Regions from separate parts of the Homo sapiens genome. Here regions 1 and 2 are each linked to region 3. The links come from fine-mapping of genetic effects on plasma protein levels. A gene starts in region 3. Each other region holds a variant in brackets. All regions are shown on one strand. Distances are from middle to middle.

Region 1 (8,000 bases), 39 kb after region 3:
TCCCACCAGTTTGAAAAATGTGTATGCTTTTAAATAAGCATTACTTTCTGAAAATATCATAAATCAGTCTCTACATATTGCAGCCAGAAGCAATCATGTTTTCTCATGAATGCTAAAGACTGTCATATCTTGACCATTTGACTGGCATGTTTTTTTTCACATGTAGTCATGTTTCTTATACCTATAAGTCAGAATATGTCAGTTGCCAAAAAATCTGAGGAAATCTTTTGGGCTGTTGGTTTTCCCCAATAATGCCAGGTTAAACTTCTTTAAGCACAGATTTTTGTGATGGAAAGATGACAATTATTTTTAAAAAGTATTACATACATTCTCCTTTCTTAAATAGAAAATACCAAACATGGTCACCTTGGTCATTGCTGATGGGAGAAGGGCTATTGTTGTGTTGATTTAGTTTGTTTGGAGTTTAGTCTGCATTTTACGGTTTTCCTGTCTTCACCACTGTGATCAGCTCTTAGCTTCTCCAGAGGGGTAATAACTTGTACGACATAGAATAGTGACGGCTAGGGGCTGCCCAGGACTGATCTTGAAGCCACGTTTGGAAAGGAAGCACTGCTTTCCCTTATCCATAACCCTGGAAACACATGTGTTTCAGCATTTCAGAATGTTTGGTATTTTAGAAAGGTGATGTGGTGTGATATAAATCACAATGGAGTTTGGAGCAGCATCACATAATCTAACACATCAATATTTCTGTAGCAAAACTAATCTATGTTCATATATGGTGGGAAAAATGAAGACTATAGATACCTTTTACTAGTTCAGGTGAGATTAATACCCCCAAAAGAGTTTGATGTCAAGCTTATTAGAAAGAAGATAGGAATTGTGGACTTGAATATTTATTTGATGCCAACTGGGGCAGTGGGAGTTGAATAGGGGTTGGCTAAGGCCTCCACATCACTCCGTTGCTGCTCCCACTGCTGATAATCCCCTTATTCAAATCTGTTATGGTCTTGGAAAATAAGTAGCCAAACTCATTATTATTATACATAAAAGAACACAAACTTACATGAGGGGAAATATCTACTTTAACTCCTTAGAGATGATTTTTTTCTTTAATTCCTACTACTTAATGAAATATGTCATTTACTTTCTCATGTGTATCAGTAGTACCTGAAGGCAAATTATACATATTATACTTCTTTATAGCTTATTACCAATACCAACTCCATATAATCCTCACCAGTTTTTGTTGGATGAAATAATTTTTTAACTCTTGCCTTAGTTACTTATTGGCAATAATTTATTGGCTTTCATTTTTGACAGAATTATACTGGTCCATCATAACATGGGAATGCACCTAAATAATGACATCTTATTCTCATCCATTCATACTCTCTCATTTAGGGTCTTTTGTCTCTAATGGGCTGTGGTTCTAGAGCCACTCTGCTTAGGTTGAAATCCCACCTCTGCCCCTTAGTGCTGTAAAATCTCAGGCAAATTACTTATCATCATTGTGCCTCAGTTTCTTTATCTATAAAATAGAAATAATAATGCCTACCTCATGGAGATAAATGGGTCTAAATATGTGAAACACTCAGAAAGTCACTGGCATATAGCAAGCCCTCAGTAAATATTAGCTATTATTCATTTTAGAGTATAATTAGTTAAAGACTTAGCCAAAGCTAGGTACATAATTAGTGGTCACACAGCAGGTCAAGACTTACTGACCACTTTATAAATTAGCAGTAATGACCAAGAACAACTGTAGAAGTAAAAAGGGGAGGGGGGAGTGATGATTGCGTTTATAACTTAGGTCCTTTTCTACTTACTTTTCTTTGGTTGTTTCTTCACTTTTGTTGTTGAATAACAATTTGTAAGCCTAAATCAGGTTTCAGGTGTTCATTATAATTCTTCTTAAATCTGAGTCTCCATGAAAATGTAAGATTTGGGAGATGAACAAAAATTTGCAAAATGCACACAGATTATAAGCATAGTTTTCGCCCCAATCCTGCCAAAATCCTGGGTGACTTCAATATCATGTGGACTGCCAAGTATTTCTTGTTGCCTCATAACTTCCTATACCATTTCACTACAGCCACTCTCATTTCTAGCCACCTAACCCTTGGCTTTGTCTTTACCAGAACTTTGCTGTCTCTGAAATTTGAAAATCCAACTTTTAACCCTCTCATCTTATCACAGTTGTCTAACCTCTCAGCTCTCACCCTCATTTATGCCCACAAACCTCTTCTTGGCCTCATCTAGACCTTCAGTCTTTTTGGAATCTTTTTTTCTCCTGGTATATCTTGCTCTTCCTACTTTAAATTATTTTGTTCATCCAAGCTAGATCCATTTTGACTACATTTGCCAATATTAGCAATGTCCTTGTTTCCATTCCTCCTACAATCCAGAAAAACTCTGATTTGGCATGAACCTTATTGTTTTCTGCCCTACTTGTAAACTTACACTGCTGAACACTAAAGAGAATATTATGCTCACACAAAAACAGCTAGCATTATAATTTCAACTGAGTCCTCCACATTGTTCAGTAGGTCTGTAACACCTTCTCAGGCTTTCCTCATTCTCGTTCTTCACATGAGCAGGCTCAATCTTTCAGCAACACCCTCAAGCCTCTTACTCTTACTCACCATTTTGATCCTGGGTTCAGCAGATGACATTAGCTCCAACTTGACAGAGAATACCCAAGTCATAGGCAGGAGCTTTCACAGTTGTTTCTTCAAAGTTATTCTGTGTACTTACTTTGCTACTCAGTCCCTCTTTACATCCTATTCTCTCAGTAGGAAGTTATTCTTTCTCTTCCCTAGCCTGGATCCCACTCCAAGTACATTGCTAGACATTCTGCTAAGCCTCCACTCAACCTTTCCCTCTTTTTCCTTCCACTCTGGCCTTCATATATAAATCTTTTTCAAGGGTCTCATCTATAAAGAAACAAATGAAGAAACCTCTGCCATCTCTATATACCCATGTTGTCTACACTTGCTATCTCAACATATGTGCATTGCATTTATTCCCCACTCTCTGTTATCTTGTGTCTATGCATTTTTCAACCCTCTTCAAGTCTATCTCAAGCTTATTTTGAGCTCCCTTTTGGAGAATCCTTAAATAGTATTGAACTCTTTCCAGAGTTCCTACATTGCTTCACTGATTTCTCT[C/A]TATATATTCTTCTTAAGTGATTTCCTTTTCCTCTTCTCCTATGGCTTCAGTTTTCACTCTATTCTGATTGCATGCAAATCCTATATTTCCAGCCCACATCTCTCTCTGAACTAGATGCTTGTATATCCAGTTGTCTGCCATTGTCACAGAGTCAACATACCTACAGCTGATAACCAATCTTACTCCCAATTTCCTGCTTCTTGCTCTTGAATTCTCTGTCTTGGTAAGTGGAAATAATATCAACCTAGTCATCAAACTCAAAACCTGAAATCCCTCCTTAAGACATTCTTTACAGACTCATTTCCCTCAAAACCCACAATATCCAATCAATCTTCAAGTTCTATTATTATAATCTCCTTTAAATCTGTTTCTTATTCCCCATTCCCACTGCCACTGCCTTAAGCTCCCATCACTTCTCATGTAGGAATGACTCAAAATAGTGTTCTTAGTTTACAGCCTCTAGCTTTTCTCAACTTCAATTCATTCCCCACATTTCAGTGTAAAAATAATAAATCTGATCATTCTCCTTGAAGCTTAAATTTGGTGAGTGTCTATCTATAGCCTGCAGTGTAGTAGTCAATCTCCTTGGCAAGGAGTACAAAGTGATCCCTGATCTGATTTTTGATTGCCACTCCACCCTCAGCTTTCTCCTCTGAATCCTCCATCTTCTAAAATGCTTCTCCTACAAATAAATGCAATATGCTTTGATTTTTTCTCTATTTGGTATATATTTTGCTGTATAATACGTGCTTTTTGGTTGCTATCTCACCCTTTTATTTACCACAGAATACTGAAAAACTATATTGTATACTATGCTAGATAAATGCCTATTGAATGAATAAAAAATTCATGCCAGCATATTAACACTGTAAGTTAATATTTCTAATGATGGCAAAAAACAAATATTTAATTGGAATTGCCATTAAAGTTGACAGCAAAATTGCAAGCAGAGGCTTAATACACATTCCAACTATTCTTTCTACTGACAACTTAAGCCCATTTAGAAAATCTAGCAGCAGATAAAGCTTATTACATACCTGGTTATTTGTCCTATGTTGATGTTTCTCAAGTGGAAAATATGTAGTCTTTCCCTATAGAAACTGCTATCTTGAAAGGGACTCTGTTCTACAAATAAACTCATGCATTCAGGGTTGAAGTCATAGGCAGGGGTTAAATCATGAAGGCACTCATGTGCCATAATAAATACACTGAGCATAGTCCTGAGCATAATGAGGGAGCCACTCCGGAGAGCAAAACCCTGAGAGTTTCATTTTAGAACTTTGTGTTTTGTGGAAATAAATTTTAAGGGAACAAGACCAGAGGTAATGAGAACAGAAGGAGGCTATTTTATGGTCCAAGAAGCAGATGACAAAAGGCTAATCTGGGTCTGTAATAGTAGAGATGAAGAAGAAGAGATAAAATCCAGCATATTTAAGAATTAAGAAATTATTAATAAATTGGAGACAGTATAGCATATGATCAATCACAAGGTTCTGAATTAAGATTCTCTGGGTTTAAATTTTGGTAACTTCCTCCACTTACCACCTATGTGAATTTAGGCAACTTAGTTACATTTCCTGGATCTCAATTTCCATGATAAAATCATATGATAATAGTATACACTTCACAGGGTTTCAGAAAGATTAAATGTGTTAATAACTGTGAAGTGATTAGAATAGTGCCTATCACAAACTAAATTTTCTATAGATGGACCCTATAAAAATGGAAAGAAAAAAAACCCCACACAAACAACCAGTGAATTATAGGCCATCAAAAGAGATGTGGGAAGTTGGATGTGCAGGAAATCTACCAAAGAAGGAGTGGGTTCTAAGAAGATAATGATTCGAATGCTGGTAATTTTGAGTTTGAGGGTCTATATGAAATTAGATGGAGTTATCCTACAACAAGGAGATTATTTGAATCAAAATGGAGAGAATGATCTAAATTGTAAAAAGAGATCTAGGTGTTAATTAACATACACATGATCATTGCATCTTTTTTTTTTTTTTTTTTTGAGATGGAGTCTCGCTCTGTTGCCCAGGCTGGAGTGCAGTGGCGCAATCTCAGCTCACTGCAATCACTGCCTCCAGGGTTTAAACGATTCTCCTGCCTCAGCCTCCTGAGTAGCTGGGATTTGAGGCGTGCGCCACCGTGCTCAGCTAATTTTTGTATTTTAGTAGAGATGGGATTTCACCATGTTGGTCAGGCTGGTCTCTAACTCCTGACATCATGATCCGCCTGCCTCGGCCTCCCAAAGTGCTAGGATTACAGGCGTGAGCAACCGCGCCTGGCGATCATTGCATTCTTGAGGGTGCCTGAGATTACCAAAGAAGTGTACAATGAGGGAGAAGAGAAGAACATAGAGACTGAAGTCCTAGAGCACACAAACGTTTAAGATTTAGGCACAGAAAAAATATTCTATAGATAATAGAGATGGATTGTACTTGTTATCCTTTACTGTCATATTACCCCAAAACTTAATGGCTAAAGGGTTAAGAATGTGACAGTAGCTTGGCTAGATGGTTCTGGCAGAGGGGTGCCTCAAAAGGTTACAATGAATCTGTTGTTCATAGGTTTCTTCTCTCAATTAGTGAGAGATGGCTTTGATAATAATAACTAATATGTGGTTTATGGTTTTATTATCCATTTGTACAAATAAAATTTTAATGACATCTTCAACAGTTTTCTCTACTTACTCTCTATTTACAACTGCTCTCCAAACCTCCACAACTTGAACTCTGAAATATTTCTTGATCGTGTCTATCTCTTCCATTTTTAGTGCCATAAGCAATGTTTATTTCTTTTCAAGGAGTATTATATGAACAAATTCTTAAACAGGATAACTTCAACTGACCCTTATAATATGTCTGGCCTCCTAGAACATGCAAGCCCCTTGATCTTCTCTCTCTGAATCTAGCTTCTCCAACATCTGTTTATTCAGTACTCATAAAGAAACTTGCTTCCATCTTTGTGTTTTTCTGCTTTCTGTAATCTTGCCCCTTGGTCTCTCGTCCAAGACTTTTGCTTTTCTCTCTATGATGGTTACAAGTATTGGTCTATTTCTGAATGCTTAACATTGAGCCTAGACTTCTTTTCGCATGGATGGATTTTTCCATTTCCCAATTCAGCTTTCATTCCTATGCTTTCTGGGATGACTCCATCCTCAGAGTTTCAGGCTGTACTCGCCACTACCATTCTGGCATAGTGAGAAAAGCTACCTTTTCTTGAGCCATTCAACAACATCCTAATTGATACCCTGACCAACAATCTGTTATATCTGAAAGTGGCCCTCTACGCTGCTGAGTTGATAATTGCCTTATGCCATTTCCTTTCTAGTCATTTCACATACAAGTGCAGGTGCCTACAAATTACACCCCCTCTATCAGAAAGCATGGTGCCACCAGTATTGTTCTTTTTTCTCAAGATTGCTTTGGCCATTCGAGATTTTCTGTGGTTCCATACAAAATTTAGGATTGTTCTTTTTATTTCTGTGGAAAATGACATAAAATTATGATAGGGATTGCATTGAGTCTGCAGATCATATTGGGCAGTGTTGCTATTTTAACAATATTAATTCTTCCAATCCATGAATATTGGATATCTTTCCATTGATTTGTATATTTTCCATTTCTTTCATCAATGTTTTATGAATTTCATCATACAGCTCTTTCACCTCCTTGGTTAAATTTATTCCTAAGTGTTTTATTCTTTTTAATTCTGTAGTAAATGGTATTTTTAAAAGTTTCTTTTTTAGATGGTTTGTAGCTAGTGAGTAGAAATGCAACAGACTTTTGCATGTTGATTTTGTATCCTGCAACTTTACTGAATTTGTTAGTTCTAACATTTTTTGTCTTGTTTTGTTTTTTGGGTGGTGTCTTTAGGGTTTTTTACATAAAAGAATATCATCTGCAGACAATTTTACTTCTTCCTTTCTGAGTTAAATGCCTTTTATCTCTTTCTTTTGCATAATTGCTCTAAGACTTCTAGTACTATTTTGAACAGAGATACAATGGGCATCCTTGTCTTGTTCCTGACGTCTGATAAAAAGTTTCAGTTTTAACCACTGAGTATAATGGTCAATGTGGGCTTGTTGTATATGGCCTTTATTATGTCGAGATACATTCCTTCTATACCTAATTTGTTGAGAGTTTTTCTAATCTTTAAATGACGTTGAATTTTATTGACTGCTTTTTCTACATCTATTGAGATGATCATATAATTTTTATCCTTCATTCCATTAATGTGGTGTATCACAATTATTGATTTGCATATGTTAAACTATCTTTGCATCCTAGATATAAATCTCACTTGATCATTGTGTATGATCATTTTAATATATTTCTGAATTTAGTTTGTTTATATTTTATTGAAGATATATATACATATATGTTCATCAGGGATATTGGCTTGTAATTTTCTTTTCTTGCAGTGTTCTTGTCTGGCTTTGATATCAGGGTAATGCTGGTCTTATAAAATGAATTTGGAAATATTCCCTCTTCTTCAATTCTTTGGAATATTTTAAGAAAGTCTAGGATTAGTTCTTCTTTAAATATCTGGTAGACTTCATCACTGATGCCTTCAGATTCTGGGCTTTTCTTTCATGGGAGACTTTTTGTAGTACTGATTCAATCTTTTTAATCATTATTGGTCTGCATTTTCTATTTCTTCATAATTCAGTCTTGATAGATTGTATGTTTCTAGGAATGTATCCATCTCTTCCAGGTTATTCAATTTCTTTGTGCATAATTTTTCACAGTAATATCTTATGTTTATTTATATTTCTGTGGTATCAGTTGTACAGCTGTCCCTCAGTATCTATGAGGAATTGGTCCCAGGACCACTCACAAATAGCTAAATCCTTAGATGCT
Region 2 (8,246 bases), 77 kb after region 3:
TATCATGAGTTTATAGTGTATGTATATTTTACATACATATTTTTAAATTTTTACATACACTATAAACTCATACTACAATGCGACAACATTTGCTGTAGATAATATATGTTAGAGCAATTAAAACTAGAAAGGTATATTTTTGCCTTCATTTTAGTTATGCTCAGAGCTCATGATTACTTTATGTAGGTCCAAATTTTAGTTCTTTGTGGTAATTCTTCTGCCTGAAAAATTTCCTTTGGCATTTCTTTTAGTGTGCATTAGCTAGTATCAAACTCTCTTGGCTTTTTCTTCTCTGAAAAAAAAAGTATTTTTTTCAATGACATTTCATTAGGTATAAAATTCTATGTTTACAGTTTGTGTGGATTTTTTTTTGTTTTGTTTTGTTTTTGTCTTTCAGTACTTAAAGATATTACCCCTTTGTCTTCTGGCTTGCATAGTTTTTAAATAAGCAGTATGCTGTAACTCTTATCTTTGACCTTCTGCTTGTAGCATTTCCCTTTGTTGTCATCGCCTTGAAGATTTCATTTTAATCTTTGGTTTTCCACAGTTTGAATGAGATGTATATTTATTCTGCTTGAAGTTCCCTAAATTTCTGGAGTCTATGGTTTGATTATTTAATTACTTTTGAAAAATTCTTGGTCATTATATCTTCAAATATTTCTTCTGCCACAATCACATTCTCTTTCTCTCCCCCTCTCAACCCCTTCTTATAACCTCTTCACTTTTTTCAAGGATTCCAGTAACACATGTGCTAGTCTCTTTCATATTGCCCCACACTCTTGGATGCTTAGTTCTGGGTTCCCTCCCTTCAATTCTTTTATCTCTTTGCACTTTAATTTGGCTAATTTCTACCACCCTTTTATCAAGTTTACTGATTCTTTCTTTTGCTGTGTCAAATCTACTGACAAACTCATCAAAGATATTTTTCATCTCTTTTATCATGCTTTTTATTTTTTACATTTCCATTTGACTCTTTATAATATTATTGATTGTATCTAGTAAAGTCAAATTTAGTCTACTTTCAAAATACTAAGGCTTTTTACTAAACTGTTTTTAAGATTTTCTCCATTGTCTTTGGGTTTTGTTTTTTTAGCAATTTTTCTCTGATAATACCTAGCTGCAAAATTATTTTTCACCGTAGTTTTTATTCATAAGATATCTTGTTGTTTTTCACCAGGTCTGGAATATTCTCAGTCATTAGTTTTTCAAATATTGCTTCTTATTTATTCTGTCCTTTGTTCTCCTTCTGGGGCTCAAAATATATGGATCTTTTCCCTTCCCACACTATCACTTATGTTTCCTTCCCTCTTTCTGTATATCCTATCCTTTTGTCTCTTCATGCTTTATTGTCAATATTTTCTTCTTACCTATATTGCAATTCATTAAATTGCTTCAGTTTTATCACATTTGCTATTTAACTAATTCACTAATTTGTATTCTAATATTTGTTTCTTTTTTTCAAATCTATTTTTAATAACTTCCAGTTCTTTGCTAAAATTTTCAGACTTGTCTCTTATCTCCCTGTTTATGCAAACAGTTGGTTTAAAGTCTGATAATTGTTTGAAGTCTGATAGCACAAACATTGGCAGCCACCATAGCTGTTTCTATTTTCCATAATTTCCACTGGTCTCATTCATGTTGTGTTATTTCCTTGTGTGCCTAGTTATTTTTACTGTGGGCTAAATACTGTACGTAAAATTATTATAGGAGTAGCCTGATGCCTGGGGTAATTTTGTATATTTCAAACATATATATTTATATTTGAAAAGCTTCCAGCATCCCCACTAATGATCCAAGATTATTTTAATCCAAACTGGGCTGCAGTTTCTGCCAGAGCTATCCTACTTCCACTTCCCTCTTAGTCCCCAAATCAAAGGATAGCATGTCTACCTTGGTTGATCTGAATTCCAGTGTTTTTTCCTCAGCTCAGTAATGTGTTGCTCTACCTCCTAGTCTCTCTACTAACTCTTGCTGAATTAGGAAATGTGTCAAGAGGACTAGTAGCCCTAGAATACTGGGCCCACCTCTTGGATTTCCACCTCCTCCCAGATCTTAGATCAGTGATTTTTTATTTTCTTATTAGTTGTCCAGGGCATTTTAGCAGTTTTAAAAAAAAATGTTTGGTTTTATTTTGTTTAGCTTTCCTCATTGTCCTTAGGGAAAAGATGAGTCCACATTATTTAATCCATCATTATTCTTCTGCAGGAATTTGTGGGGTTTTTTTGGTTTGTTTTTTGTTTTTGTTTGTTTGTTTGTTTGTTTGTTTTAGCTCTGGGCTCTATAGATTCTCATTTCTTTTAAGTTTTGTGGTCTCTTGTTTTAAAGTGCTCTGCCACCAAAGTGCCTCTATTTCTAACAGTTTATTCACTCAAACAGCTCTTGCTAGTTACACAATTGAATTTGCTTAAATTAAGTGAACATATAAATTTCCCTGTATATGTTATGATATCTCCATTATAAGAACTTTTTAATTTTTTTCTATGATCATCAAGCTGCACAATAGATCTTCTGAACTTACCCCTTCTATCTAACTACAATTTTGTATCTTTGGAACAACATCTTCCCAACTTCCTCCTCCATTTAAAAACTTTCAAAATTCTTTACTGTATGCCTGAAATAGTCTTCTCTCTGCCTTGACACCTTCAAATCTCAGCTCAGTATTTATTGTCAAAGCTTTCCAAACTTCCTTGATTTCAGTGTAGCAACTGTGTATCTTACTGCAGGAATTTGAGTGTGCCAAATAAATACTTTTACTTCATTTTCTTTACATCTAATTAAATGTGATTTTGAGATCATGTCCCTCCATGTTGCTAGAAAATTCACCTTTCATTTACTTGTTGGATGGGGCTCAGGAAATTTTTTCCCTGCTGTCTAAATTGGTATAAGAATCCTAACACTTCCATCTGGGAAATGGAGATATAATTTACATATGCCTTTAGTTCATCGTAGTTACCTCAATAACCTTATTGTTCAGGCTCACATGTTCACTAGAAGTCAAATATTTCCAAGCCCTCCATGCCAGGCTTGCAAATGGAAATCACTGACAAGACTGGATTCCTGATACTTCATATGCAGCTTCCTCAAGGCACCCCATAGGTCCTTCTATCTCCCAAAATAGCTGCTAAATATCTAGCTATGGTTTCCTGTTACTTGAGGTATATACTAACTTCTATCCCCTTTCTATTCTGGAGGAATCTCTTTCCTTGGTGGCATTCTTCTATATTCCTTCCCTCTACAAAAATTTCTCAATGAATTTAGACTTTTAGAGGAAAAAAAAAACAAGAAAGAAATTAGAAAAAGGTTGCCTTCAGGGGCATTCTGGACTTGGCCTTGCACACAAACCTCCTCTTAGGCAAGAGATAGCAAGCATCTGGTTACCTTCTGGAAGAGAAGGAAGAAGGCAGCAAAAACAATTCACAAAATATGTCAATAAATTATCAAGCCAGAAGTTTAAGTCCCTCAGTTGTTCATTTTTAAAGCACATATACCTGTTTTTTTTTTGTAGCACCTATCACACTTTCTATTTGAAATTTATGCATCATTATTTTATTAATATCAGCCTCCTTAACTCCGTAATATGACCTCCCTGATAGCAGTCATCTTGACTAGTTTTGATTGTTTAAAAGCTAACATCACATCTGGCAATACTATACATTCAATAAGTCTTTGTTGAATTAATGAATCAGTGAATGAATAATTAAGTAAAGTGTATTCTACAAGTTCTCTCAGTTAAAAAGGACCTAAAATTAAATGTTTTGCTTCCTTTCAGCTGTCTCCTA[T/C]ATATAATCTGGTTCCAGTGAAAATGAAAAATGCACACCTAAAGAAACAAAACTTGGAAAGAGCCATTGAAGACTATATCAATGAATTTAGTGTAAGAAAATGCCACACATGCCAAAATGGAGGTACAGTGATTCTAATGGATGGAAAGTGTTTGTGTGCCTGCCCATTCAAATTTGAGGGAATTGCCTGTGAAATCAGTAAACAAAAAATTTCTGAAGGTGAGGACAATTTATTTGATGTGATTAAAGACAAAAATATGCACTTTGGGGTTATCTAATTTGAAAACTAGCTCTTGAATTAATTTGTACTAAATCTCTAGATTATTTATATAAACAGAAGATAAAGATTGAGTGAATAGTGAAAATGGGTAAATCAGCCTTTATGTGTCATTCTGACATATTCTACTTGTATATATTAAGATAGAATTATAAATAAATAAATTATAATTATTGTATTACTCTTTATAAAAATATTCTTATAGAAGGTTTACAGAAATACAACAAACATCAGGTATTCACTATATAGAATTGATGAATGTTAATACATATATATCATATACACTTTGCATATATATGTGTTTATGTGTATAGACGTAGACATATATACTTTAAAACCCTTTTTTAAGAAGCAACAATAATACATCCAATTAATTACTTTGTACCACATCCCCGCCCCCCAAAAAAATTCTATTGCCTTTTCTCTCTTCTACTACTCAGATACAGTCACTTTCATTAAGTTGGTATGTATCTTTCCAGTTCATATTTTTGTGCTTGTACTAAATATGTATGTACCAATGAAAAATATGTGATATTGTTTTGTATGTTTTTAAATTTTATATAAATGATATTCACTAGATTTTTATTTTGCATTTTTAACTGTATTTGTGTTTTTGAAAGCTGAGATTCTGTATTGTATTTTTAAGTTAATCATAAGGAAACATTATTTTACATTAAAAATATTTTTATTATGAATTTAAAGGGTACATGTGAAGGTTTGTTACAAGGATATATTGCATAATGATAAGCTTTGGGCCTCTGGTGTACGCATCACCCAAATAGTGAACATTGTACCCAACAGGTAATTTTTCAACCCTCATCCCCCTCCCATCCTCGCCATTTTTGGAGTCCCCACTGTCTATTATTTCCTTCTTTATGTCCATACATACCCATTGTTCAGCTCCCACTTATAAGCGAGAACATGTGGTATTTGATTTTCTATTTCTGGGTTATTTCACTTAGGATAATGACCTCCAGCTCCAACCATGTTGCTCCAAAAGACATGATTTCATTCTCTTTCATGGTTGAATAATATTCTATGGTACATATGTACCACATTTTCTTTATCCAATCATCCATTGATGGACATGAAAGTTGATTCCATGACTTTGCTATTGTAAATATGTATTGTAAATATGTGCTATTGCACATCAAAATATGTGCTGCAGTAAACATATGTGTGCAGGCATCTTTTTCATATAAAGATTATTTTCCTCTCGGTAGATACCCAGTAGTGGGACTGTTGAGTGGTAGTCCTATTTTTAATTTTTTGAGAAATCATCTCTATTCTCTTACCATATACAAAAATTAACTTGAGATAGATTAAAGACTTACATGTAAGATCTGAAACTATAAAAATCCTAGAGGAAAATCTAGGAAAAACTCTCCTGGACATTGGCCTAGACAAATAATTTATAACTAAAACCTCAAAAGCAAATGCAATAAAAACAAAAATAGACAAATAGGACTCAATTAAACTATTTTACTTCCTACAAGTAAACATGACTTTAGTCATGTTTCTAATCCTAAGAGTTTATGCTTAGTATTTCATTCTGGTAGAATTATTCAGACTCCTAATAGATTAGTGAGATCTTAGTCCAAGTGTTAATATCACAAGATTAGCTATTAAGATTAACTTTCTATGGCAATCATTGTTTGAACAAATACAGTTTCCTGAAACAAAATTCTAAAACAATTATGTAGCCAAAGTTCACAGCCTCGTTTATCATTCAACCATATTTTCATCTCTTACAATATAAATTTTTAATATTTTATGAATTTTTTACACTTCTCAGCAAATGGCTTAGAAACTCAATCATGTGGTGACAAAATATGTAAGTTAGAATTTAATTTAAATTTTAGAATGATTGATTTATAAATGTATGCTAACTCTGTCTCTCATCGGTCTAAAGTCTCAATCTAGTGCTTTGCGTTCCAAAAAAAACTCTCACTCTCCAAAAATGTATACTACTTGGTACTTGGAACGTCTATTTTCTACCTATTTCTCTCTATGTAGAATATTCTGCTGATTTCTCTGTGATTTCTTTAGTTCTAGCTTTTAATTTTCCAATTATTTTATTCAACTTTGTATAGTCGATCCATTTGCTGACCTATTGAGATTATTTTAAAAGTATTTTTCTAAAATTTTGATTTGGTTCTTTTTCAATTTTCTTTTGTCTAGTTTTTTCTGTTGTCTAGTCTACTGGATTATTTTCCTACCTTTATAGCTTTCAACATGTTAAATATATCTTCACGGAATTCTTTCAAATTGTTCCAGTATATATTGTTTCTGCAGTGCAATTCTCTGCTAAGTCTACCAATTCATTCTCATGGCATATTATGCTTTCTTCAGTACTTAGTGATTTTTTATTACAGGCTTAGTTTTTGGTGGGAATTATTTCCTGTGGAAACCCGTCTTCCCTGGATAATGAACATATTCTTAGGGTTAGTTTGTTTCTTAGGAGGTCCTATCATTTTCATCAGTCTTGCACTAGATTTTTATGTAAAGTTCTTGGTTCGGGTTCCATATGTTGTGTTTCATAGATAATGAATATCAAGGTCCCTTCCCCAATATAAAATTATCTTTGATCACTAGGCATTGTTTGGTTGACCTTTCAAACCTGACCCAGGATGGCCCACAGCTTCTTGCTGAGACATTAGACATTTTCTTGTTGAATTTTTCCCTCAAGGTAGATCTTCCAAGCATCCATGTTGACATAGAATGTTCTAGTTTCCAATTTACACTAGCTTACACCCATGATGAGATTGAAAACCGTAACACATCATCTTTCTTTTTCTATACCATTTACTTAGCTTGAAATGCTTCCAACTTTCTCTCCCTCAACTAACCGAACCTCCTTCTCCCTTATTCCTTGTGTGCGTTTCTACTCCTAGACCAATGGCTCTCAACCAGGTTGGTCATTGGATTCATCTGGCTCACTTCCTTAAAGGAAAAAAAAAAAAAGAAACAAAACAAAACAGATGTCTATCCTAAGCCAATTAAACAAAAGCAGCCATGGTAGATCCTGCCTGGGCATGGGTTTTTTGTTTTTTGAATTTTTAAAAAATCTACTGGTTATTCTAATCTTTAGCCAGGGTTAAAAACCTCTATTTTGAACCCAGTCCAATTAGCATATCTTTGATGAAACCTTCTCCAATTTCTCCAGGAATCAGTTCTCTATCTATGCTGCCTGAGAACTTTCCCTCTGTTTTTCCAGCACTAATCACATTGACTCTCTGTATACAAGACAAATAGCCCTTTCTGGTATGAAAATGTGCCTTGTACCTTACACCACATTCTATTCCCAGTACCTAGACAGTATGGCACAACGTGGTGCAAGAGGATAAGAAGGTGAAAAAGCGGATGGGTGGATGGACCCAAAGTAAAATCCTATTGATGATTAAGATTTGATACTTATTTGTTTTCTCTAGGATTGCCAGCCCTAGAGTTCCCCAATGAAAAATAGAGCTGTTGGCTTCTCTGAGCTCCAGTGGAAGAAGAAAACACTAGTACCTTCAGATCCTACCCCTGAAGATAATCTTAGCTGCCAAGTAAATAGCAACATGCTTCATGAAAATCCTACCAACCTCTGAAGTCTCTTCTCTCTTAGGTCTATAATTTTTTTTTAAATTTTTCTTCCTTAAACTCCTGTGATGTTTCCATTTTTTGTTCCCTAATGAGAAGTCAACAGTGAAATACGCCAGAACTGCTTTATCCCACGGAAAATGCCAATCTCTTCTAAAAAAAAACAAAATTAAATTAAAAACAGAATGTTGGTTTAAAAAACTTCAAAGTAATTTTCAAACGGCTTTGTATGGTTAACATATTCTGCCAGGTCCATGACCACACGTCTGTACCATGCAATTTAACTCTTATTTACATTGTTATGTTTAGTTTGGTTATTTGCTTAGGTGTGCATACATTCATTCAGCAAATGCTGAGCACCAGCCACGTGCACAGCAGTTGCTTTTACTAGTCTTAGCTCTACGATTTAAATCCATGTGTCCAAGGGGGAAAACATATTATATTTGTAACCAAAAACTACTAGTTTACCAGAGGACTGAAGGGAGATAAAGAGGAGTTGGTTAATGGGTACAAAAATCCAGTTAGATGAAAGGAATAATATAGATAGTGTTCAGTAGCAGAATAGAATGAACATAAACTATTAGTTTAAATTATGTGAAATTCCT
Region 3 (8,256 bases):
AATACGTTTAATACAAAATCTGGGAAAAGATGGGAGCTGCCCCAAAGCCCCTGGTAAATATTTAAGCTATTACGATTTGAGGAGGTTGCTAAACAATAAAACAAATAATTATTGCTGGGAAATGGTATGTTTTGAACTAATTCCCTTCTGCTAAAAATAAAAACTCATGTTCTAGGCTGATATGTACAATATCAGCCTAGGGACATATACAAGGCTATGTACTGGCAGCAGCTCTGTTAACATGTTGTAATTACAGCAACGCTGATGGACAAGGGCCAGCCATTTGTCATCTCACCTGATGAGTGGCCAAGCCCCTCATTTGCCCTTGCTTGGAATTGTGTCCTGCATTTAATTACTAAACCTCTACCACATACTGAAATCATACAAGTGCTTGTCTCCAGCAAGACCATGGTGTGGGCTGCTCAGTGGCAAAGAAGCTGGCCTTCTGCAGAGATGAAAGATGAGGTTGTTAAAAATGGAAGGGAAAAAAAAACCCAACTCTGAAATTCTTTATGACTAATTTTTCCTTGTGATATTGGTTGTGGAGTTTTCTGTCAATTCTTTATTCACTTGGTTGATTTCAACCATTATTTTATCTTACTTACAAGAAAGCAGAATCATTGCTGCTCTAAAAGTTACAGGGTAACATGACTGGGCTGGAATTGAGTAGAGGATGCTTCTCGGGTGTGTCTGATGCTGCCTCCTTAGTGGAAGCTCTAAAATTTCACTGTGGCATTGCAAGACCTGTGGATCTTTGGACAGTCAGTAAGAAACAGCTATGGAATGGGGCAGGCATTCCTAATGAGATCCCTGGATACTAAGATCCCTTAACTTACTGCTAAGGGACTTTCAAGAAACTGTTTCCTTCACTATAAAAGAGTCAAATGGAAATGACCCTCAACATATTTATATCAAATCAGTAAAAATTAAGTGTTTCTGCCTGCTGGTCAAAGTTTTAATGTACATATGTCTATGTTTGCCTTAAAAACTGGGAAAAGTATTATTAAGCAAAAAACTTAGTTCACTATCACAAAGTTCCCAAGAAAATTGAAACTAAGAAGGGAACAAAGGGCAACTGAATGGCGAAAACCCTCAGCAGAGTGGAAAACCCTGGAATCAGAGTTTAAAGACATGGTTTGTTCAAATCTCACCCCTGCCTCTTCTGTGTAGCCTTGCAGGTATTTCTCTGAGCCTCATCTGTGAGACTAGAATAAAAGCTTACCTTCTATGGAGTTGACAGGACTCAGTAACGAATTTTATAGTAAAGTACCCTATAAGCAACATGACGTACTTAAAATAATAACAATAGTAGTAATAGCAAGGTAGGAAAAGCCTGAGATGTGGAGCCAGACATAGCAAGTACAAATGTGCAGTTACTCGTCCCTGGCTGACGCTGGACAAATGATGTAATCTCAATGTGTCTCCATTTCCTCAGCTGTAAAACAGATTATTTTCAGGATTAAATGAGATTGCATATATAAATATGGCCTGACACATATTAGAAGTTCAATAAACATTTATTTTGTTATTTGGAAGCCTTTAAGTGTTATACAAATGAAAATGTTACTATTTTCACTGCTCTAGTCTAATGCATGATGATGCTTTATTTCTCTGACATACACACAGAAACATAAGCCTCATTTCAAAACACCTCAGACACATGATAGATGTTAAGGACAAGAAAGAGTTAAAAGCATAAAAATGTGGAGCATATTATTCATATATTTTATATATTTATATAATATTTATGATTTTATATTATAATTATGCATTATATGTAATATATAATTACATATATTATAATTATATAATTATAATATGTAATATATAATATAATTTGGCTCTGTGTCCTCACTCAAATCTCATCTCGAATTGTAATCCCCACATGTTGAGGGAGGGACGTGCTAGGAGGTGATGGGATCATGGGGACGGTTTCCCCTGTACTGTTCTTGTGATAGTGAGTGAATTATGAGAGCTAATGGTTTGTTTGTTTGTTTTTGAAACAAAATCTCGCTCTTGTCCCCCAGGCTGGAGTGGGACAGAGCGATCTCAGCTCACTGCAACCTCTGCCTCCTGGGTTCAAGCAATTCTCCTGTCTCAGCCTCCCAAGTAGCTGAGATTACAGGCGCCTGCCACCACGCCCAGCTAATTTTTGTATTTTTAGTAGAGATGGGGGGTTTCACCATGTTGGCCAGGCTGGTCTCGAACTCCTGACCTCAGATGATTCGCCAGCCTCGGCCTCCCAAAGTGCTGGGATTACAGGCGTGAGCCACCACGCCCAGCCAGCTAATGGTTTTAAAGTGTGGCACTTCCTCACTCTTGCTCTCTCCTAATGCCATTTACGAAGTGCCTTGCTTTCCTTTCACCTTCCACCATGATTATAAGTTTCCTGAGGCATCCCTAGCCATGCAGAACTATGAGTCAATTCAACCACTTTTGTTTGTAAATTACCCAGTCTCAGGTGGTATCTTTTTTTTTTTTTTTGAGACGGAGTTCCACTCTATCGCCTGGGCTAGAGTACAGTGGTGCAATCACGGCTCACTGCAACCTCCGACTCTAGATTCAAGCAATTCTCTTGCCTCAGCCTCCCAAGCAGCTGGGATTAGAGTCACCCGCCACCATGCCTGGCTAATTTTTTTGTATTTTTATAGAGATGGGGTTTCACCATGTTGGCCAGGCTGGTCTTGAACACCTGACCTCAGGTGATCTGCCCTCCTGGGCCTCCCAAAGGGCTGGGATTACAGGGGTGAGCCACCGTGCCAGCCAGGTAGTATCTTTGTAGCAGTGTGAAAATGGACTAATACAATATATATTGCCAATATATAATTAATATGCTATTAGTATACTTTACTGCTGTCATTATTTTTCTACATTATATTTAACCTGAACTATGGTGATAAAATAAATACAACTGAGCAATTCAGAAAAGCCTCCTATTCAAACTAGTCAGCCAAAAATATCCCCTCACTCCCTCATCCCCCTTCCATTGATTTAGTCTCCAAAGAGACAGGTGATGTACAATCTCCAGTCACATCAACTTATCAAGTCTAATCATCACAACTTCTAATCAATTAGCATCAAATCTAGTTAGTATAAAGCATCCCATCCTGACTGCTTTTCAGTCTTTATTTCCATAAGTATCTTGATAGGGTCCAGAGAGGCCTCATAAGAGCCCTCAACATTGCTACAGCATTTTTCTTTTTGTGAGACAGAGTCTCACTCTGTTGTCCAGGCTGGAGTGCAGTGGTGCCATCTTGGCTTACTGCAAACTTTGCCTCCCAGGATCAAGCAATTTTCATGTTTCAGCCTCCCAAGTAGCTGGGATTACAGGCACACACCACCCCACCCACCTAATTTTTGTATTTTTAGTAGAGATGAAGTTTCACCATGTTGGCCAGGCTGGTCTCAAACTCCTGGCCTCAAGTGATCCACCCACCTCTGCCTCCCAAAGTGCTGGGATTATAGGCGTGCGCCACTGCACCTGCCCTGCTACAGCATATTTGACAGATTCATACTGTTTCCAAATGTAGCCCACCTGTTATTAGCCAAGACTCACAGGAAGTGTCTTTCAGGCATGGACTCATCCCATGACATAGTTACACGAGTTGTGGCATCCATTCGAATCATCTTATTACTTGGCAGTTCTGCATGGCCTACACTCCACAGCAAGCTCAGGAAAAGGTGAGATCAGTCCCATTGAAGACCTCAAGTTCTCTGCATAAAAAGGAGAGGGGCCAAGAAAGTGGGTGAGAGTAGATACCTTTTACCACAGGTAGGAATATCAGTAGAAAAGGTAAGGCAGTACTGGAGAAAATAGCTGTATATTCTGTCTTCCCTCAGCTCCACCCCTTGCTTTGCTGGTCTTTATATGTGCTAATGTTTGAAATTTGCCTATAAGTAATAATAATACTTATAAAGTCCCTTTAAGAACTATATCCAGAGATATCTGATGTCTTTCTTCTCAAGGTGGTCATCCTCAGTCTCAACCCTGGCTACACGTTAGAATGATCCGCAAAGCTTTTAAAAGCATGGATGCAGGGTCTCATCACAAGTCAATTAACTTAGAGCTGAGCAGACAGCGGGCAGCCATCACTACTGTTCTCAAGAGTCCCCAGGTCATTCTATTTTTGCAGTCAGTGCTTTAAGAGCAGTTGTGATGTCCACATTCTCTGGTGTTCCCAAAAAGGCACTGCTCTTCCCACAAGTGCTGGGAAGCATGAAATGTGAGGGGGAGACTATTTTTCATGGGTAGGAACAAGTTTTTCTGTCTCAGATTCTATCTTGTTGACATGTGTGATGCTGAGATAAGGAGACCACTCTTTCTGGTGGACGCCCTTAATGCCTTCGGGAGTTTACATCTCATTCTTCAAAATGTACCACTCGGCCTATAAGGAAAGCCAGGATTGTAAATGCATTTGCTCACGTGGAAATAACCTACCTAGCCCATTTGCAGATTAAAAAAAAAATGAAGCATCTACGTCTGTGCCATCCTTTCCACTAAGTGCAGTTCTTTACTAACTTTGACTTCATGCCTCCATGAGAAGCATCCACAGGCTTTTTTTTCCCCAAAATTGCATACTCCCTCATCTTCCACCCAACCCCTCGAGTCTTGCAAACTAAGAACTGCTGGGGGTCCTTCATTTTTGTTTCTATTTTTTTGTTTTTGTTTTTGTTTTTGTTTTGTTTTGCCGGAATTTTGCTCTTGTTGCCCAGGCTGGAGTTCAGTGGCCCCACCTCGGCTCACCGCAACCTCCGCCTCCCAGATTCAAGCAATTCTCCTGCCTCAGCCTCCAAAGTAGCTGGGATTACAGGCACCCACCACCATGCCTGGCTAATTTTTTGTATTTTTAGTAGAGATGGGGTTTCACCATGTTGGCCAGGCTGGTCTCGAACTCCTGACGTCAGGTAATCCACCCACCTCAGCCTCCCAACATGCTGTGATTACAGGCGTGAGCCACTGCGCCCGGCCTTTGTTTCCATTTTCACACAGCACTGCTGCCCATCTTAGGGACTTTAGCATTCACAGGCCCATTGCCCCATATCTACTTGTCAATATGAGAAAGCAGGAGGCCAAGAATTACAAAATGATTCTCCTTTGGTTGGACTTCAGTACCCAGGCCACCCAAATTGACAAAAACTCTGAATGCAGACAAACAATGCTTGTTCCCTGTCCTCTGGCCCTTTGCAAATAAATGCCTTACCAGACCTGCCCTGCCACCCCACTCGCAGCCACCCAGCAAGAGCAGCATGTCAGCCTGCCGGAGCTTTGCAGTTGCAATCTGCATTTTAGAAATAAGCATCCTCACAGCACAGTACACGACCAGGTGAGTCAGTTACTTTTCTGCTTGTCTCTGGAAGTTTCCTGTAGGATTAGCATCTCAAGGTCTTCTTAGCAGCAAAGTACATGACAATGTTAATCCACATGGCAATATACAGAGCCCTAGAATCTAAACTTCGAAAAGAGATAAGAAAATACATAGGGTGCATCTTTATGAGTTTTCTGTGGAAATGTGCTGCTGTTTCTGGGGATTTATTTTCAACAAGGCACTCAAATGTTAAGATTGAGGTATTCTTTAAATATCTGGAATTATAAAATAAAGCTTGTTTTCACCAGTGTATGATGAACCTGGGTTTATTAGTGCCTGATGTCTGAGAAGTTTAAAATTAAGGAAATTAATCTTTCCCTCACTCTGCTTCAATGCCTGACACCTTTAACATTTGGATACATCACCCTTTTGCCTCCACATTAGGCAAAGGTTAACTATTTTGTTTCTTTCCCTTGACATCCTGAGTTGTGTTCAGAGGCATGCATTTTGTTTAGGGCCATTTGGGATTTAGGTCATATTTCTTCCATTCCAGAATTGCAGTGATGCAGACCTGTCACTCATGCTTCTACCAAAGATACTTTTTCTCCTTTTTCTCTGATCCTAATCGGAATTGCAAAGCCCATGGCAAGTCATCCAGGAAACAAATCACCCATATAATAAGTTTTTATTGAACAGCTACACTGTACCTAGAAATGGTGGAGGTTAGGGTCACATGAGGCATCCTTCCTTCCATCCTGGAGTCATCAGAGTAGACATCGACCTGTATAATTCAATACAGGATGATCCGTTCTGGGGAGAGTACTGAAATATTCCTCACTTCAACAGTGTGGCTGGGGGGAAATGTCTGCCCAAGCCCTGTTCCTCTGCTCAGACATAACCATAACCTGCTTCCAATTCCTCATTAGTCATTTGACTCTTGGTTTACCCAAATGCTGTTTTGAACTTTGATGCCCGTCTCCAGTACATATTTGCCTGCCTCTTGGCTGCAGTTGGAGGCCGCCATTCAGCCTGGGCTCCACTCAACAAGTGGGTTATTCACAGGGCTGTATCTTTCAGGAGGGGGCACCCAGAGGTGCTACACAGATGAACATGGGCCCTGGATCCAGTGCTCGACCAGACCTTTCCTTCATCCCTCCTCTTTCCATATTATCTGTAAAGCATTGTACCATTCAGGAAATATTTTTGTTTAGTGGGCATCTGGGCACAAAAGGGATTTGGAAAGGCAGTTCCTCCAAGTTGCTTTAGCTCCCTTGAACTTCACCTGACCCTTTCTTAAGCTAAAAAATAATAATAATAATTCAAACAACCCACATTCCTAGATTGCAGCTCCTGCTGATCAAAAATGAGAGGCTGTGGGGAAGCTTTGATTGCTTTGAAGTGCGTACCCCCTGGGTCCTGGCCACACTCAGCTGTTTCAGGGAGGACCGGAAAGCCCCATTAGCTGGACCCCAGCTCCAGCAGCTGCACGGCTGAGTTTGGTTTGGTTTCGTGGGCTCCCATTGCTATGCCCTCTTGAGTTTGCCCCGGTTGCCCTGCTCTGAATGCTCTGTGCTTTGCCCTTTGACGGGGGTTGAGGTCAAAACAGAGTGTTCAGAGCCCTCAGTCATGAAGTGAGACGATTTGTTTGAATAATAGCTAACTGAAATTTGCAAAATAACTTTTAAAATCCTCTGAAGCTAGACTTCCCAGGCTCAGGTCAAGGTGCCTTTACTTACCAACAGTGTCATTTTGGGCGGGTTGCTTGGCCTCTCTGTACCTCGCTTCCCTCGTCTGTAAGATGTGGTTTTATTTATGTCCTGGGACTACCATAACAAAGCACCACAAGCTGGATGGCTTCAAACAAAAGAAATGTATTGTCTCACAGTTCTGGAGGTTAGAAGTCTGAAATCAAGGTGTTGGCAGGGCCGTGCTCCCTCCGATACTCTGGGAAGGGTCCCTCCTAGTTTCTGGTGGTGGCCAGCACTCCCTTGTATTTTATTTTTTGGTTTCAGATCATTTCAGTCTATGTGTCTATCATCACATGGCCATCTTCACATCATCTTCCCATTGTGTATGTCTTTATAAAAATGTCCCCTTTTTAAAAGGACACCAGTCATATTGGATTAGGGCCCACCCTAACGATGTCATTTTAACTTGATTACCTCTGTAAAGACCCTATTTCCAAATAAGGTCCCAGTCTTATTTGACACTTAGGACCAAATAATTATCTGGGGTTAGGACTTCAACATACCTTTCAGGGTTGGCGGGCAGGCACAATTCAACTCATCACAATGGTAATGATAGCATCTGTCTAATAAGGTTTTCGTTGTGAACATTAAACAGGTATACATGTAATGTCCTTATGACATCTGTGCCTGGCGCATGGTAAGAACTTAATAAATGCCAGGTATTTAAAAAAAATAATAACCTTCCTGTGCTTTCACTTTGCTATCTTTCTTGTTTAGGACGGAAGGGTTGGAATTACAGCTAGCCTTCAGGGCTCTCCCATGGCTTGAAGACATCTCATGCCACAGCTACAGTGACCTATTATTACTGGAGAACTGTCAGGGATTTCTAACTATTGTTTTTTTCTTTTTTCTTTTATTTTTTTACAAAGATTAATGTGCCCATGAGAACTGGCCATGAGGGGGACATCATCTCTTATGTTTCTCAAGGTAGAGCATCAATGTTTAAAACCACCATGAGAGTAGAATAGTAGCTCAGAGCGTTGCTTCTGGAGCCAGGTGGCCTGGGTTCGATCCCAGCTCCACAATTTACTGGCTCTGCGCCTTAAGTAAATTCCTTAACTTCTCTAAACCTGTACCTCACCTGCTAAATGGGAATAATAATGTGTCCTGCTGTGAGGAATACCTGAGATAACAAAGACAACATGCTTAGCACAGTGCCAGGCAAACAGGAAGTGCTCTGTGAGTGTAGCTATCATTACCTT

Direction of the effects. Positions count from the first base shown, and alleles are read on the strand shown. Strength reflects both the effect of a copy and how common the allele is.
For the plasma level of the protein whose gene starts at base 5,217 in region 3, A is the low allele of the variant in region 1 and C is the other (moderate association).
For the plasma level of the protein whose gene starts at base 5,217 in region 3, T is the high allele of the variant in region 2 and C is the other (weak association).

The links. PIP is the chance, under the fine-mapping model, that this variant and not a neighbour inherited with it causes the effect. The UK Biobank Pharma Proteomics Project read protein levels with antibody pairs (Olink). The fine-mapping took linkage between variants from a reference panel, not from the people measured, so its PIPs are less certain.
Region 1: its variant is fine-mapped to the plasma level of the C9 protein (UK Biobank, PIP 0.98).
Region 2: its variant is fine-mapped to the plasma level of the C9 protein (UK Biobank, PIP above 0.99). The variant lies in the coding sequence of C9. If it changes the protein, the assay may bind it differently, which can mimic a change of level.

Annotation. Positions count from the first base shown.
Region 1 is chr5:39,322,918-39,330,917 of GRCh38, reverse strand. The region is part of intron 5 of C9 (complement C9); the gene reads left to right. Among named protein-coding and RNA genes, the nearest start is that of C9, 38 kb to the left of the region's middle. The variant C/A (reference allele first, on the strand shown) is at 3,132.
Region 2 is chr5:39,284,475-39,292,720 of GRCh38, reverse strand. It overlaps C9 (complement C9), which reads left to right. Exons shown (of 11, transcript NM_001737.5): 10 at 3,770-3,998; 11 at 7,488-8,246. The coding sequence ends at 7,522. Among named protein-coding and RNA genes, the nearest start is that of FYB1, 69 kb to the right of the region's middle. The variant T/C (reference allele first, on the strand shown) is at 3,780.
Region 3 is chr5:39,361,456-39,369,711 of GRCh38, reverse strand. C9 (complement C9) reads left to right here and starts at 5,217. Exons shown (of 11, transcript NM_001737.5): 1 at 5,217-5,324. The coding sequence starts at 5,248.